Linked DNA regions of Homo sapiens. The protein of the gene in region 1 purifies or fractionates together with the protein of each later gene. This does not show direct contact. Each region holds a gene or a part of one and is shown on either strand. Other genes may lie near its edges. The genes, in order: THYN1 and SHPK.

What was found.
Region 2: the proteins of THYN1 (region 1) and SHPK purify together in Homo sapiens (affinity purification with mass spectrometry; 2 studies listed by BioGRID and IntAct, with this or other methods). This does not show direct contact.

The regions. Positions count from the first base shown.
Region 1 is NC_000011.10:134,247,726-134,250,620, forward strand, and holds the end of THYN1 (thymocyte nuclear protein 1), read right to left. Parts: intron 2,619-2,895; coding exon 2,550-2,618; intron 2,196-2,549; coding exon 2,103-2,195; intron 1,538-2,102; coding exon 1,442-1,537; intron 1,235-1,441; coding exon 1,084-1,234; intron 760-1,083; coding exon 713-759; 3' UTR 557-712; downstream 1-556. UniProt on the Homo sapiens protein: Specifically binds 5-hydroxymethylcytosine (5hmC), suggesting that it acts as a specific reader of 5hmC.
Region 2 is NC_000017.11:3,615,576-3,619,399, reverse strand, and holds part of SHPK (sedoheptulokinase), read left to right. Parts: exon of another isoform or gene 1-336; intron 337-3,824. UniProt on the Homo sapiens protein: Acts as a modulator of macrophage activation through control of glucose metabolism.

The DNA.
Region 1 (2,895 bases):
TTTAATGGTCTTTCTGATTAAAGAAAGCCCCTGTGGCTTTGGAGGCATTGTGCCCACGGTCCACCAAGTTCTGTGGTCTCTTCCGTCTTACATGGTCCCAACTCCGACACTCAGGGAAAGACAGATCCCTGCCCTGATTTCCCTACATAGTGCCTGTGCTCTCACTGTATAGCCCCGGGTGAAAAATGATGAATACTTTATTAGCCACCTGTTTGAGACAAGCACATGGCTGAGAAATGAATTCAGTTCTTATCCCTATCTGGCAGTTTATCCAGAACTGCTCATGGGATGGTTTAAACCTCTGTGGGACCCAGAAGATGAAAGGGGCAGGTGAGCAAGGCTGGTGTAGAAAGAAGAGTTCATTCCAGTGGGTGTTACCAGACTGAGGATCTCAGCCCTACGTCATGCAATTTGCTACAGAACTACTAGTGATCGTAAAGAAAGAAGGTGGAGGCAGCTCTGCATCTGGGAGCGGCCAAAGGAGCCCGCCTGGAGGTAAGAGGTCTGCAGTGGGGAGTATCCCACTGCACTCAGTGTGGTTTTAGAAGAAAAGTTCTTCAACTTTGATATTTTATTGAAAAAAGTACACAAAAACCACTGAGGTACACAAGCCCAGGTAAGCATACCAAGCAAGCCCCCTCACACCTTTTGTCTGAAAAAAGCTTGACTTCTTTGCAGCAATGTCTCGCCCATTCCAGCAGCAGTATCTCAGTTAACTTGGTTCCTTTTCCTCCAGGCTCAAAACAAAATCAAACTCTTCTACAAAAAAAAAAGGGAAAAAGGAAGGATTAGTTTTTAATGTCCCCTCTTGAACAGGAAAGTTGTGCCAGGCACAGGTACATCTTACATGGTACTAAGGCGAGCAGTCATTCGTTCAAAACTATTTACCAGGTGCCAAGCACTATAGAGTACTGGGTAATAGTAACAGGTAACTCTGGCCACATTCCCTCCCTCATGGGTGTTACAGGTGAGGATGCTGACTGAGAAAGGTGAAGTACCATGCCCAAGTTTAATCAGCTAGTAAGTGGGAATTCATGAGGTCATTCTGGTATATGGACAATAAAGGAGAGGGCCCACTCTTACCCTGGGTCAGGGGCTGGATTGATAATCTCTGGCGAGTGAAGAGAACCATATTTTTTAAGGGGCCACCAGTAGCTTTGTGAGCTTGATGATAGGATTTGAGCTCAGCCAGGGGAATGAAACGTTTCATCATCCGAACAAACTGTACATCCACCTATGTGACAACAGTGTACATGACAGAAAGACGTGTCTAGGCTGACTGTGCCCACTGTATTTTTAACCGCCCACAGGAAGCTCCTATCTCAGTATCACCTCATCTGAGTAAGTGCTGGGCCGTGTACCTTGACCTACAGTCACCCCAACCGTCTTCTTCCCCTGGTTCATCCTTCCCCTGTCATGAAATAGAAAGCATAGTCTTTACCATGGACCACTTAGGGTTGTCCTCTTTGCTAGATGGGTCATAATGGGGATTGTTTTTCTCAAACTGTGTGTGGTCTGGGTAAGCCTCTTTCACGATCTGAAACCAAAACAAAAGCTTTGAATCATCTGCCTGCAGTCAGCTCCACAGCCAATCTTTTAATCCATATCCAACTTTCATTTCTTCCCTGCACATTCTTAACCCATCTGCCTTGCTGTACAGCCAATGGGGGCTCAGATATTTGGAAACAATATATAGTCTAATATATAGACTAGGAAATCAACTCTGTTTTTACAAAAGTCTTAAAAACATGCTCTAAAAACAAATGGCAAAGGTTATTACTGGTACCACTGTTTTTTTCCCCTCTGCACAGTTAATAATTTTATCCTGATAAGCTTGGAGGAGCTATCATCAGGCCTGTTTTCGAGTGAGATCAAGACTTAGAGGTGGAGTGAAGTCTGTGCTAGTCGGACCTGAATGAAGGCCTGCTTTGAGTTATCAGATAGGAAGGGGCCAGGGCAGTTTTTCCCTATTCCTGTAAAAGGGGGATGGGGTGGGGGGGAGTGTACTTTTTTGTTGCCTAATTAAGGTATATCCCTTTATATCTACTTAAGTTAGTCTCCCTGGAGGAAAAGGGATTCACACCAAAACCTGCCCAACTAACCTTCATGAGTCCTGCGATGCCTGGCTCTTTGCAGTTGCTATGGTAGAAGAAGGCTTCTTCTCCCAGCTTCATGGCTCTAAGGAAGTTCCGAGCCTGTCCCGGGAGAAGAAAGAGTAACTATCCTCCCACCAGCTGGAAAGTACTAGCTTTTAGCAGAAATCAAGTCTGCTTTTAATAGATGGGTGATTCTTGTCTGCAACTCCTCAATTCATTAGAAAGTCCTTCCCCTTTGCCAGGACACCCAGACTTTTACCAGGACATTGGCCAGAACACAGGCCAATTGAAAATTTCATGCAGAGTACTTAAGGCATTTTTTAATACATTATCAGGTTTGCTTCTGAGAAAAAGCAACCTTGGCCAAGAGGTTCTGCTACTGAGTACGTCATGAGGAGGAGGCAGGCATTCATCCCACCTGGGTCTCAGGCGACCTCCTCCTTACCCTCTTACCTGGTAGTTACGAACACCATCCCAGCATGTTGTCTGTTTGGGCTGTGCTTTGAGATCCTCAATGCTGAACTAGGCAAGAGGAAATAAATTCAATCATTAAACAATCCTTGGCCAGTTAGTAAGCACATATGGAAGCAGACAGTTCCTTCCCCTAAAATGAGAGGGGCCACTGGCTATAGAGGAAGTATGTAGTTCACCGGGAAGTGGCTCCACAGAGACACTTTTGCTGGGTGAATGTAAGTAAGCCTTGTGTTACCTTGTTATCCTTGCTAATTATGAGGATTAGCTGAATGAATAATCTAGGTGATAAAGTAATCTGCTAGTTACTTGCATTTTACTTTATATT
Region 2 (3,824 bases), on another chromosome or scaffold:
CAAGCAGAGAAGATGAATCATCACCCGGAATGGTTCAATGTATAAAACAAGGTCCAGATAACTCTCACCTCACGTAACTGTGGTGGACTGATCAAAAGAGATGTGAAGCTGGCCACGTTTATTGAAAAAGCAGCTTCTTCTGTGTGATTTCTTCCAAAATACATGTAAAATCTTACACACATCTTAGCTGCAACGTAGGCTGAAGGCAATTTACGTGAACAAATTGAGTTGTTCTTAAGGCATCATCTCTAGAGGCAGAAAAAAAAATAACAATTTAAGTTATGTAAATTTAGTTTGCCTTTATATACTATGTTTTGTAAAATCAGTGCTTATATACAAAATGATTAAACTTGAAAAAAAAAAAGTGAGAACATGCTAGTGGGATTGTAAAAAGGTACGGCCTCTTTGGAAAACAGCTGGTAGTTCCTCAAATGTTAAACGTGGAGTTACCACAGGCCCCAGCAATTCTGCTCCTAGAAATACACCCAGGAGAACTGAAAACAAATGATATCCACACAAAAAGTTGTACACAGATGTTCACAGCAGCATTACTTATAATAGCCAAAAAGTATAAACCATCTAAATGTCTGTCAACTAATGAATGAATTTTTTTTTTTTTTGAGATGGAGTCTTGTTCTCTCACCCAGGCTGGAGTGCAGTGGCACAATCTCAGCTCACTGCAACCTCCGCCTCCTGAGTTCAAGTGATTCTCCTGCCTCAGTCTCCCAAGTAGCTGAGACTACAGGCGCACGCCACCACACCCAGCTAATTTTTGTATTTTTAGTAGAGACAGGGTTTCACCATGTTGGCCAGGATGGTCTCGATCTCTTGACCTTGTGATCCACCTGCCTCGGCCTCCTAAAGTGCTGGGATTACAGGCGTGAGCCACTGTGCCCAGCCATGAATGAATTTTTATAATGTGGTATATACACATAGCTAAAAAAGGATTGAATGTTGGATAGAAGAAGTACATTTAAATTTTAAAAAGTTTATTTGGCTGGGTGCGGTGGCTTACACCTGTAATCCCCGCACTTTGGGAGGCTGAGGTGGGTGGATCATGAGGTCAGGAGTTCAAGACCAGCTTGGCCAAGATGGTGAAAACCCATCTCTACTAAAAATACAAAAAATTAGCCAGGTGTGGTGGTGGGCACCTGTAATCCCAGCTACTCGGGAGGCTGAGGCAGAGAATTGCTTGAATCCAGGAGGCAGAAGTTGCTGTGAGCTGAGATCGCGCCAGTGCACTCCAGCCTGGGCAACAGAGTGAGACTCTGTCTCAAAAACAAACAAACAAACAAAGAGTTTATTTGAAGATGCAGTGATTTGTGAATCATGGTAGCACCAGACTCCTAGCACTCTGCCAGGAGAGGCAAGAGGGGAAATTTTCATAAAGTATTTGCAGAAGCAAGACAAAACAATTTTGATAGGGCAGACAAAGCATTTTTTATGCCAAACAGGGATATCTTTCATTATTGCTCTGAGCTCAAGATTTTGACGAAGGCATAAGAATGCTTAAAAAGCAGATCTGGTTAATCTGAGAGCCTGACTTTTATAAACAGTTATCTAGTTCTCCTTTTTAATTTTTTTTTGACTTTGGGGTAGGAGGTAAACAGGCAAAAATGTCAGCAGATTCAGTGTAGGGAGAGGAAGGTACAAAGAAAGAGAGGTCAGAAACTTTTACCTGCCAATCAAAAATATATCCCATTGTTTCTGAGGTGTTTGGAATTGTTTGTTTGTTTGTTTAGGTTAAAACTTCCTTATGTGGCCACCAAAATTCTAAATTATTTTTGGTAAGATTCACTCATTTATCTAGAAAAGCAAATGTTCTGAGATGGAGTCTCAGACTCCCTGAATTTAAGTAAACCCATTATTTTCTGTCTTCCTGGAACCTTTTCTACTGGAGGTCTTTTACTAAACCCAATTTAGTTTCTGTCTGACCCAGTTGGACACCTGAAGCTTCCCTTCAGCACCTGTTCCAGTTTCTGTCATGGCTTCCAAACCCAGTCCAGATTTAAAAATGCCCAAATAACTCAGTGAACTCAACACAAGTTGTGGAGTTCATATGTCCAAGAGGGCTTACTGGAGAAGGCCTCCCAATGTGCAGCAGGAAGCAGTGAGTGCCAAGGCTCAGTGGGTACTTATGCCCGTTTGCTTGTTGCTCCCAGAGGTCATCGTGAGGTGGGTGGGTTCAGATCCCACTTACGACACCAGATCTGATTAAAGAAAAACTTGGCCGGGTGCATTGGCTCACACCTGTAATCCCAGCACTTTGGGAGGCTGAGGTGGGCAGATCACTTGAGGCCAGGAGTTCGAGACCAGCCTGGCCAACATGGTGAAACCCCATCTCTACTAAAAATATAAAAATTAGCTGGGCACAGTGGCGGGCACCTGTAATCCCAGCACTTTGGGAGGCCGAGGCAGGTGGATCACGAGGTCAGGAGTTCGAGACCAGCCTGGCCAACATGGTGAAACCCCACCTCTAATAAAAATACAAAAAATTAGCTGGGCGTGGTGGCGCATGCCTGTAATCCCAGCTACTTGGGAGGCTGAGGCAGGAGAGTCACTTGAACCTGGGAGGCAGAGGTTGCATGAGCGAAGATCGCGCCATTGCACTCCAGACTGGGTGACAGAGCAAAACTCTGTCTGAAAAACAAAAGCAAAAACAAAAGCAACAACAAAAAGAATACTTTGGAAATGAGCAAGAGTAGTATTCACTGCCAATGAATGAAACCTCCTCAGAGACTAAAGCCCTTGGTCTGAGGTCTTACCCTGTCATAGTTTTCTTTTGCTGTGTAACAAATTACCCTAATACATAGTAGCCTAAAACAACAGACATTTATTATTTTGGACAGTTTCTGAGGGTCAGGATTCTGAGTGGGGTGGGATGTCCTGGCTCAAGGTCTCTCGTGAGGTTGCATTCACTCTGGAGCTGCAGTCTTCCAAAGGCTTGATTGAGCCTGGAGGATCTGCCTCTGAGCCCACGCTTGATGCTGTTGGTAGAAGGCCTCAGTTCCCTGGCACGTGAGGTTCTCCACAGGGCTGCTCACGACGTGGCACCTGCCTTCCCCGAGAGCAAGTGATCCACAAGACAGCGTGACCGAGATAGGAGTCGCAGTGCCTTTTATGACTTAGCCTCTGAAGGCACACACTGTCTCTTGTGCTTTATTTTGTTCACTAGAAGTGAGTCACTAAGTCCAGCCCACTCTCACGTGGAGGGGAATCAGGTTCTACCTCTTGAAAGGAGGAGTATCGGCCGGGCACGGTGGCTCACACCTGTAATCCGAACACTTTGGGAGGCCGAGGTGGGTGGATCATGAGGTCAGGAGTTCGAGACCATCCTGGCCAAGATGGTGAAACCCCATCTCTACTAAAAATAAAAAAATTAGCCAGGCGTGGTAGTGGGTACCTGTAATCGCAGCTACTTGAGAGGTTGAGGCAGAGAATTGCTTGAACCTGGGAGGTGGAGGTTGTAGTGAGCCAAGATCGCACCATTGCACTCCAGCCTGGGTGACAGAGCGAGACTCTGTCTCAAAAAAAAAAAAAAAAAAAAAATTCCTTTGATCAACATCTCTTCAACACCTTGCCCTTCTAACTATCCTGGACATATTTTTAAAACCCCACCCTCTCTCAGTGCCAAATTGTGACTTGTGACCTCTGAGTTAGCCCGACAGGCCACCCCCTCTCACTGCCAAACTGTGACTTGTGACCTCTGAGTTAGCCTGACAGGCCACCCCCTCTCACTGCCAAACTGTGACTTGTGACCTCTGAGTTAACCCGACAGGCCACCCCCTCTCACTGCCAAACTGTGACTTGTGACCTCTGAGTTA